3 linked regions of the Homo sapiens genome follow. The protein of the gene in region 1 interacts with the protein of each later gene in a pairwise test. Each region holds a gene or a part of one and is shown on either strand. Other genes may lie near its edges. The genes, in order: PNMA5, RAB5A and TNPO2.

The links.
Region 2: the proteins of PNMA5 (region 1) and RAB5A interact in binary tests that used the Homo sapiens proteins (3 or more experiments, as listed by UniProt).
Region 3: the proteins of PNMA5 (region 1) and TNPO2 interact in binary tests that used the Homo sapiens proteins (3 or more experiments, as listed by UniProt).

Annotation. Positions count from the first base shown.
Region 1 is NC_000023.11:152,988,297-152,991,240, forward strand, and holds the end of PNMA5 (paraneoplastic antigen-like protein 5), read right to left. Parts: coding exon 1,956-2,944; 3' UTR 528-1,955; downstream 1-527.
Region 2 is NC_000003.12:19,949,986-19,953,736, reverse strand, and holds part of RAB5A (ras-related protein Rab-5A), read right to left. Parts: intron 2,932-3,751; 5' UTR 2,839-2,931; coding exon 2,676-2,838; intron 1-2,675. UniProt on the Homo sapiens protein: The small GTPases Rab are key regulators of intracellular membrane trafficking, from the formation of transport vesicles to their fusion with membranes.
Region 3 is NC_000019.10:12,703,182-12,706,932, forward strand, and holds part of TNPO2 (transportin-2), read right to left. Parts: intron 3,615-3,751; coding exon 3,389-3,614; intron 3,338-3,388; exon of another isoform or gene 3,268-3,337; intron 3,187-3,267; coding exon 3,015-3,186; intron 2,588-3,014; coding exon 2,501-2,587; intron 2,419-2,500; coding exon 2,311-2,418; intron 2,218-2,310; coding exon 2,059-2,217; intron 621-2,058; coding exon 533-620; intron 491-532; exon of another isoform or gene 416-490; intron 346-415; coding exon 247-345; intron 1-246. UniProt on the Homo sapiens protein: Probably functions in nuclear protein import as nuclear transport receptor. Serves as receptor for nuclear localization signals (NLS) in cargo substrates.

The sequences.
Region 1 (2,944 bases):
CACACACACTGTCCCCAAACATCCCTCAGTGGCTAGGCCAAGGCTGGCCACCTGCGGGCTGATCTGGGAGGATGGGCACACACCAGCCCCTACCCCACCCCGAGTCCTGCACACAGCTCTTCACAGGGCCTCTGACTGCCTGTCCAGGCCCTCCTGGGGCTCTTCTCTGACCTCGGTTGCTGGCCTTGGTTGCACACGTGGCCTCTCTGACCCTTCCGGAAGCCTTGAGCCACACCCCTACAGTGCTGCCAGGGATCAGGGGCCTGGGACCCACCTGCTGCCCCTTGCCCAGCCTTCAATGTCCAAGTCACTTATTCCTGAGGACACCTGGAGTGCCTTTGGTACCCAGCCAGTCACTGCTCATGACCACCAGCATCCTGTTGCCAGGCTCCATGCAGCCCAAGGCACCCCACAGGCCCTCATAGACCCTGCCCCACACACACCTCGATGTCAGCCTGGCCACTGTGGCCCCATCCCCAGCAGACCACCTCCCACCCCAGTTTCACACAGCAGAGGCAAGACACCACTGGAACACTGAACAAAATTTACTGAAGAGAAACATGAACTGAAACTGCTGAAGAAAAGGGAATCTAACACAGAGAGAAACTGCAAACAGCCACTACAGGTCACAAGTCCCCGGCCCCTCCCTCAGTGTGGCCCCCCCCACCACATCCCTCCTTCCATAGGGCCCCAGGATCCACCTCTTGCCAGGATGGTGGGCTCTGGCAATGTGTACTCGCTTCAGGGAACCCCCTCCTGAGCCCACCCGCTGGGGCAGGGCCCTGCCCTATAGACTGCACAGGACAGTCACAGGATGCTGGAAAACATAGCAGGGAACACCCCACCAAGTTGAGGAAACTGAGTCACGAGTAACAGCAGGGGTGGAACGCCAAAGCACAAAGCTTCCTGGGGAGCCTCAGGCAGCCCTGCTCCTTCCCGTGTCTGGTTGGTCCTCCTGCAGTCGAGGTCACAGTCACAAGGTGAGCGTCTGCCATGCCTCCTTCCCACCGTCTCCTGGAACTGCGCTGGGGTACTCTGGAAAGGAGCTGCTCAGATAAAAACACACACATCCCCAAGAGAACAAGCAGCCACTGGCCGAGATCTACACCGGCAAAGCAGAGGTGGAGTTCTTGACACGGAACAGCAGTGAGCAGAGCCCGGGCCTGATGATGACGCAAACCAAAAACAACTACCCACCCCCAACACATCCTCTCTTCTCTTCTTACACTTCTTCCTCCTCCTTCCCCTCTTCCTCCTCCCCCTCTTCCTCCTTCTCCTCCCCCTCTTCCTCCTGCTCCTCCTTATTCTCCTCTTCCTCCTCCCGATCATCCTCTTCTTAATTCTCCTCCTCTTTCTCTTCCTCACTGGTGCAGGGGCTTATGAATGCTGCCTTCCTGGGGCTCCCCTCATGCAGTGTAGATGATCCTAAAGACAGGCTGGACCCTGTGGCCTCCCCTGCGGGGCTTCACTTCTGCCCCACAGCTCTTCCTCAGCAGCCCTGGCTCCTTCTGGCAGAGGCAGGCCCCAGGCAGGCTCCTCCAGGTCCCACGTGGCCTGGGTGCCAGTGGGCATGCTCAGCTCAAAGTCCACAGGGTAGATATTTGGGGGTGTCCAGAGGACCAGGCCAGAGCCCCCAGCCACACCTTCTTCAGCCCCTGCTTCGCTGGGGTCCCCATCTGAAGCCCAGGCACCCCATGTGCTAAGTGTAGTGGTTCCCCGCTTGTGTCTCCTGTACCTGTTAGGGGCTATGGGCCCGGCCCCCACTGAACCAGATGCTATTTGGTCTTGGTTGGTGAAGTCCCTTCCAGCTGGTGGAAAGTAAGGGGGCTTGATCTCGACCTGGCTTCCCTGTCCCTCTGCCCCAGTCAAGTTCCCTGTTAGTGTAAGCTGCCCCTTCCCCTTGTTCAAATGTCCCTGCTGCCTGCCAGGGGAAGGAGTGCTTCGGTCTTCTGAGCCTATGTTTCCCAGGGCTTGGGATGGCTCATGGCCCCAGCCCCTGCCTCGTTTCCCAACTCCTCTCCTGCAGCCTGTGGCCCCTCCCTGCCTGGAGTCTGGTTTTCAGCCTTGGGATACGTGGCCTGGCCATGGTCTTCTCCCCTAGTGCTTTCACTGCCTAACAGCCGCCTGCGTTTCACTAATGGGGGTAAGCCTCCCTGTATGGTCTGGGGGCTGCTGTCGCTAAAAGACCTTGCCTGCACGGTGGCCTGAGGTGCAGAGACACTGGCTTCTGCTCTTGCCTGTCTACCGGAGGCCCCCCGGCCTCTCCCTGATGGCTTCTCCTTATTCTTCATCACTGCCTCAGTGTTCTCCCACTCTTCTTCATCTCGAATGAGCTTCATTAACTCCAGAAAATTGGGAGGACACCCTCGCTGATCCAAGAGCTCCAGCTTGCCCCTGAGGGCGGGGGTCATGGCGACCCGAGCTAAGAGATGTTTCAGACGAATCATGTCTGTGCTGCGCACTGACAAGGGGCTCTTGTGCACGGCTTTCTGCAGCAGGGGCTCTAAGCGCAGCAGGAAAGTGGAGACTTTCTCTCCAATCTTCGGAGAGGTCTGCAGAAACCTAAACTGAGAGGCTCTAAAGTCCTCTTTATCCCCAAAGATCTGCTTTAGGGCGTCAAGGCACTGCTCCACAGTTATGGAGTCATTGTTGGCCTGGAGCACCCGCATGATTGACAGAGCAGGCCCACGTAAGCTCTCCAGCAAACGCCGCCTCTTCTCCACCTCAGACACTTGCCATATGGGCATTATCTCAGTGACCTGCTCTAGCCAGTCTTCAAAGGTCTCTTCGCCTGGGCTAGGGGAAGCAGTTCCCGAAAACACTTTCAGTTTCCTGTACCACATACTTTCTTTCGGAGGCTCTAAAGGTGGGGATCTAACTTGGGGCATGACCTCTGCATCCAGGCTCTCGGCAGGGAGGCTGCAACATCCCAGGGCTCTGGCCA
Region 2 (3,751 bases), on another chromosome or scaffold:
AGTATCCAATAAAGATTAACAGAAAGTTGGGCCAGGGGCAGTGGCTCATGCCTGTAATCCCAGCACTTGGAGAGCCCGAGGTAGGCAGATCACTTGAGGCCAGGAGTTCAAGACCAACCCGACCGACATGGTGAAACCCCATCTCTACTAAAAATACAAAAATTGGCCAGGAGTGGTGGCTTGCGCCTGTAGTCCCAGCTACTTGGGGGGCTGAGGCATGAGAATTGCTTGATCCTGGGAAGCGGAGGTTGCAGTGAGCCAGGGCTACACCACTGCACTCCAGCCTGGGCGACAGAGACCTTGTCTCCAAAAAAAAAAAAAAAAAGGATTAACAGAAATTTGGATGCAAATTCCTTTTTGTTTTTAAACAGGAAGCTCTACACATAGAAATGAAAATCTTTATGAAAAATTCATTAATGAAATCTAGACAATCTAACTGGTGTTACATGGAGATTATATAGAGATACACACATATCAGAGATATATTTATGATACACAGGATATGGGGTTACATTTTTCTTTTAAACATCCTTCTTGAGCTATCATTAGGAAAAAATAAACTTAGAAGTGCATTATCCAAAACAAGATAAAAATTCTAATCTTAAGCTCTTGCAAAGCTCCCCAGGAATTAAGTCCTATACTACAGTACTTCAGAGTTTTTATTGTTTTAATAAAATAATAAAGAGAGAGGAGAAGAGTAGCATATAGTAAGTCCCAAACCTACGTGGCCCAGGTTATTTAACCCAGAATGCACATATACTTTGGGAAATGCTTCCATTAACAGTGAAATAAGTGGGTGGACATGATCTAGCAGTCTTTAAACTTTTCCTACTAGATGGGACAGTTAGCTTTGACCAAATCACTTCTGGAGGAAGCAAAGCCTTCTTGAGAAGTAGTATTTCATTATTAAACTGGATATAATGTATTAACAATAACAACAACAACAACAAAATCACACGTGGATGTACTTTCAGGGAAAAAAAAAATCACAAAGATGTCTAATATATTGTGTATTAACATTTTTTAAAATGCCAAGACTTCTGACTCAAAATAAAAGCTCCATGATGCTTTCTGATGCTCAGCCATTAGAAAAAACATAAAACATTCTAATATAACATTTTAACAAGATATACAAAGGCCAGGAGGTAGTAGACTTCTGTAACTTATCTTACTAGAATGGGTCTAAGATTATGAATAACATTCTCAAGTATATTTGCAGAAGAGCATTCACTAAATGCACAGTATAAAGTTTTGCTTCTGAAAGACAGATTCCAAGAAGTTGCCACATGCCAGTTGGTATCTACCTGTCTTATTTCCAAAGTTTGACTTTAATTTTACAGGATGGGGTTAAAATATATACATGAATACCTTAGAAAACAGCATTGCTTAATTATATATCACTTGCAAAATATTGTGAATCTCAAACCGTGTGGCTCTTGCCACACATCATCTAATTGAAAAGCATCATTTCACAGATGAAACAGAGGCCCAAAAGAGGCTATCTTGTCCCACTGCTATATAATTATAGGTTTCTTTGATTAAAGTCAATTTTTTTTAAGAGATGGGTTCTCATTATGTTGCCCAGGCTAGACTTGAACTCCCAAGCTAAAATAATCCTGCCTCAGCCTCCAAATACCTGGGACTACAGGAATGCACCACCATGTCCAGCTAAAATTCAATTTTCCCATTTCACGTCCTCTCTTGACAATACTGTACTGTTTGTTGTCTCCTTTTCACCCTGCATCTTACCTTCCCCTCATCTCTGTCCCACCATAACCACCCTTGTCAGTGCCTACTCTTTCCCTTCTTCTTTCATCTTTTTCTTCAGGTTCCATTTTCCTGTTATGTCCCTTTCCATTAATCACTTTTTCTCTTCCCTCAGCTTAGGAGCATTCTTACATATGCATCTCAGCAGGGAGCACCTGTAATCACAGCTACCTGGGAGGTTGAGGCTGGAGGCTCACTTGAGGCCAGGAGTTCAAGACCAACCTGGAAACACAGCGAGACTCTGACTCTTAAAAAAAAAAAAAAAAAACTTGCCTGGCATGGTGGCATGCACCCTTAGGTCCAACTACTTGGTGGGAGGCTAAGGCAAGAAGATCATTTGAGCCTAGAGTTTCAGGCTGCAGTCTGCAGTGAGCTATGATCCGGACACTGCACTCCAGCCTAGGCGACAGCAAGATCCCATCTCTTAAATACCAAAAAAAAGTACATCTAGCAGTATTTAATTACATTTAATTTTACAAGTAAGTATAATTATTTGCAAATACTTCAGTTATATAGATCAGAATTTAAGGTTACCTTTTTTACTATTCATTTTAAACCAATATAATTGAGCACAAACATGTACTGTATTAATTTGAAGAAGCTTCTAGTTGTTAGCTAGAAATAGGTATCAGGTCAAATGTTATTACTTGAGACACTGATTCTACTCATGTTTTTTATCTGTATTTTAGCTACAATATAACCACAAGGGATTAACCAAACAATCAAATATAAAAACACATCATTTTAACAAAGATAAAGGCAAGTTTTAAAGCTAAGGTAAGCTGAACAGCTCTTTTCTTCACTCTATGACTTATTTAGCTATTCATAATCACACAATTGGAACATCAAAATATTTTCTGTCAATGTATGATTCGATTAAATGAAGCAGGGAAAAAAGAAAATCTCACCCCCAATGGTACTCTCTTGAAATTCATGAAATTGGCCTTTCACAAAACGAAGCACTAGGCTTGATTTGCCAACAGCGGACTCTCCCAGAAGTACTAGTTTGAACTGGCATATTTTATTTCCCGTATTTGGCCCGTTGGGTCTTGTTGCGCCTCGACTAGCCATGTCCAAATTTGAAATAAGTCCCTAATTTCAGACTCTTCAATGAACTTCCAGAATTCAAGGGGCCAATATTCTTCTTTCTGGAGGTAAAGAAACCTGTAAAGAAACAATTATGAATTAAATATACAAATCAGTAAAGCAAATTTACTATTAATCACTTTAAATATTGCCTATAGCATGATTATCTTAAACTCTACTAGACCTTCAATGCCCTTTAGATTATGTCACTATCTTTTAAAGGAAATTCAAAGGTATAGGATGTGAGTCCAAAATTACTTTTTTTTTTAAAGGCTAACCTCAAAGCTTCAAGTTTGTGCCAGGCAGTGCTTTAAGTACTTAACTTCTCAACAATCCTATAAAATGAGATATTATTACAATCCTTATAAATGAGGAAACAAGCACAGAGATGTTAAGAAGCTTAATTGAGGTCACACAGTTATTGTCACAGAAGTGACAGAGCCGAGTTTCAAACCCAGGCAACCTGAGAGATGACTCGAGTTCAAGTTCTGTAGCCAGGCTACTTGGATTAACATTGTTTTGAGAAAAATTATGTTATTAATAAATGGGAAACTTTTAGAACAGATCCTAAAATTTAGTATTATTTGAAGTTTTCTGTTAAACGATGCATTTTTCATTTAATTAATGGTAATTTTGGACAACAAATATTTTCAGTCTCCCAGGTTTGTGTGCCTAACGGCAGACTTAAAACTGTTTCCTCATCTGCTCAAGCACACCATACACAGAAATGCTAACAGTTGTTCTCCATGTGGTGATTATTACTGACTTATTTACTTACAATAATTGTAACTTTTTTGTAGTCTTTAGACGAACAATATACATGCCATTTTTAAAAAAATTTTTTTGGAGAAAGGGTTTTGCTCTCTCACCCAGGCTGGAGTGCAGTGGCGTGGTCACA
Region 3 (3,751 bases), on another chromosome or scaffold:
GCCAAAGTCACCCAACCAATCCGAATGAGTCTTTTAGCCAACTACACAAAACGGTCCAATCAGAACAGCCCTCCTATCCCTCCTCTTTAGAGAAGCCAATCACAAATGACCTTTCTGCTTGGCTCCACCCCTGACGACCCCCAAGAGACTTGCCTTGAAGGAAGCTGTCAGTCAGAGCTAGGCTCCCGCCCCCAGGTTGAGAACAGGCTAATGGGGGGCGCGTGTTGCCACTTGCAGGGCACTCACCCATCTGCATGCAGATTTCACCAATGGCCCAGGTGGCGTTGTTGCAGACGGAGATGAACTCTGGGTTCAGGTTGGTGCCCAGAATGGGCATGAACTCGGCTGGTGGGGAGAAACAGGGGTGCTGAGAAGGAGGGCCAGCCAGGGTAAGCTGCAGGACCTAGTCCAGCAGGCCCCATCAGACAGTACGAATACATCCCAATGTGGTCACAGTCATCCCCGGGTATTGCTCTCCATCACTTGAGGCCGGGGCTGGGGTCATGGGTTAGGGACAAGGCGAGTGTCGTACCGATACAGGGCTTGACATGGATGAAGCAGGCTTTGGTGAGGTCTCCCAGGAGGGCAAAGGAGCTCTGCCGGACCTCAGGCATCGAGTCCTGGGGATTCAAGTAAGATCAGTGTGGCTAGGCTCCCCTCCTTCTAACCAGGACAGCTCAGGGGGCACAGTCCCTGGTGCATGTCCAGCCTCTGCCACTTTCCAGTTCTAGAGCTCCTAGCTGTTCCTTAACCTCCCTAGCCTCCAGCCCACATCTGCAAATGGGAGATGGCAGTGCCCCAACGGTCATCCCTCAGTGTCCGTGGGGGATTCTTTCCAGGTCCCTGCAGATATAAAAATCCACGGATGTGCAAGTCCTTGATATAAAGTGGCACAGTGTTAGGGCCAGGCGCAGTGGTTCATGCCTGTAATCTCCAGCACTTTGGCAGGCCGAGGCAGGCAGATCACTTGAGGTCAGGAGTTTGAGACCAGCCTGGCCAACATGGCAAAACCCTGTCTTTACTAAAAATACAATAAAATTAGCCAGGCATAGTGGGACACGCCTGTAGTCCCAGCTTCTTGAGAGGCTAAGGCAGGAGAACTGCTTGAACCCTGGAGGTGAAGGTTGCAGTGAGCCGAGATCACACCATTGCACTCCAGCCTGGGTGACAGAGTGAGACTCTGTCTCAAAAAACAGGTGGGGGGCGGTGGGGGGGGCATAGTGTTTGCATATGCACCTATGCACATTCTCCTGTACACTTAGCATCATCTCTAAATCACTTATATCTAATACAATGTCAACAGTATGGGAATAGTTGTTATACTGTATTGTTTAGGGAATAATAACAAGAACAAACTTCTGTATGCGTTCAGTACAGATGTAATTTTTCCTCTGAGTATTTTCAATCTGAGGTTACTTGAATCTTGGGATGTAGAACCCACAGATACAGAGAGCCAACTGTGCTGGGGCAGGGACTTGGGCTTTCACATTTTCTATTTTCTTTTCTTTCTTTTTTTTTGAAGACAGAGTCTCAGTTTATTGCCCAGGCTGGAGTGCAGTGGCATGATCTCAGCTCACTGCAACCTCTGCCTCCTGGGTTCAAGCAATTCTCCTGCCTCAGCCTTCCAAGTAGCTGGGATTACAGGCGCCTACCACCATGCCTGGCTAATTTTTGTATTTTTCGTAGAGACAGGATTTCACCGTGTTGGCCAAGCTGCTCTCAAACTCCTGACCTCAAGTGATTCACCTGCCACAGCCTCCCAAAGTGCTGGATTATAGGCGTGAGCACCTGGCCTCACATTTTCTATTTTCAATACTGTTTGCTTTAAAAAAAATTTTTTTTTTTAATTTTAGAACTGGGGTTTCACTATGTTGCCCAGGCTGGTCTCAAACTCCTGGGCTCAAGCAATCCTGCCTCGGCCTCCAGGATTACTCTTTAAAATAATTAGAACAGCACCTTTTCCCTGATTTCCTTTGGGCACAACCAGGCCCTGACTCCCCACCAGGGGCAGCCCACGCAGGCTGCTGGGTGTCATCACTGTCCAGGGTCCCCACCCACCTGCATGCACTGGAACAGCAATGTCATGATGTTGCTGCGGGCCACCAGCTGCTCCACGTGACCACCCAGGCCCTCGGCCAGGCCGCTGAGCAGATCCAGTGCTACGATCATGAAGTCCTTGTCGGGAGCCTCATACTGCTCAGGGTGCTGGGTGTACATCTAGACACAGATGCCGACAGGGGCACGGGTAAGTGGAGCAGGCCCGAGGCAGGCCAATGCAGAAGCACAGGTGACGGGCCTAGGGTTGCTCACCATGGCCTGAGCCAGTGTCTTCTGCACCAGGGTGACACAGCGCTGGTAGACGGGCTCACAGTAAGGCAGGAAGCCACTCTGCAGGGCGGTGGCCACCGATGACAGACACTGGCAGGGAGGAAGGCAGGTGGGGAGAACTCAGGCAGGGTGGGCAGGATGGGTTTCGGGTGAGGGGCAGGAGCCCACTCACCTCCAGCAGGGGGAAGAGGTCCTTGTCTTCGTCCTTGAGCTCATTCCACTTCTGGATCAGTGGGGGCATCAGCTTCTGGATGTATTCCTGGAGAGGGAGCACGAAATGGGCGCTCCCTGGGTCGGGGTGGCAGACTGTGACTCAGGTACCTGTTGCCCGAGTGATGAGGCCTGAGCGCCTCACCGTGGCTCATGGGACCCTGAAAGGCCTGCCATCTGGCCAGACCTCGAGGCCTTCATTCTTCTCACCTGTCCAAGCACCGCCCGCCCCACCCCACCCCCCGGGAGCCTGGGTTACCACCTCCTGGTTCCCGAAGCACAGCACTTACCACGCTGTCTCATAACTGTCTTTCTCCCCCACTAGACTGGGAGCAGGGCGAGGGCGGGGCCGGGTCTGTCTGTCTGCCTGTCGAGGTCACGGCCACGTCCCTGGCGTGCAACACGGGGTTGCCACCAGGTCACTGGATGCCCAGGGGCACGGGGATCGGGAGGCGGGAGCCGCTCTGGGGTCTCACCGGCTGGTTGAGGTGGTGGCCTACAGAGTCGGCCAGGGTGCCAATGGCGTCATAGAGGATGAGCAGGTTCTTGTGCTGGTATTTCCCAAAGGCAAAGACAAGGGTGTCCAGGATGTAGCTGAGGTAGGGCACCAGCTCCGTGCAGGCCTCTTCCTCCAGGGTGGCAAAAGCACTGGTGGGAGGGAGGATGAAGCGGGGGCTCAGTGGACCATGGCAGGTGACACTGGGCCATGGGCAGTTGGGGAGGGCAACTCAGGATCAGCCAGTACGAATACGCGATAAATCAGTTCCACATCAACAGTCACAGGTGTCATCACTTCCCAGAGGGTGGCCGGGGGAGAGTGGGGGCTGTGGGATCAGGGGTCCAGGGTCACCTGCAGGCCGCCTCCTGTACCCTCTTGTTGCCATCCAGGATGCGTTTGAGCAGCTCTGTCATCAGGGGCTTGAGGTGCATGTCGGGTGGCTGGCTGACCACCCAGTGGGCATAGCGGCTCAGCGTCCAGCAGGCGATGGAGCGGACCAAGGCCTTCTTATCCGACAGGCACTGGATCAGGTGCGGGATCAGCTCAGGCAGGTAGGGCACCATGCCCTGCATGCAGCCTACAAGGAAAGGGAACCAAGAGGGGGCAGTTTGATTGGGCCCAGCCACACCCACCGTATGGAGAGAAGAGTCAGCCGCACACAACATATAGGGAAACTGAGGCTTAGAGTTTAAATCACTGGCCCAGACTCATTTC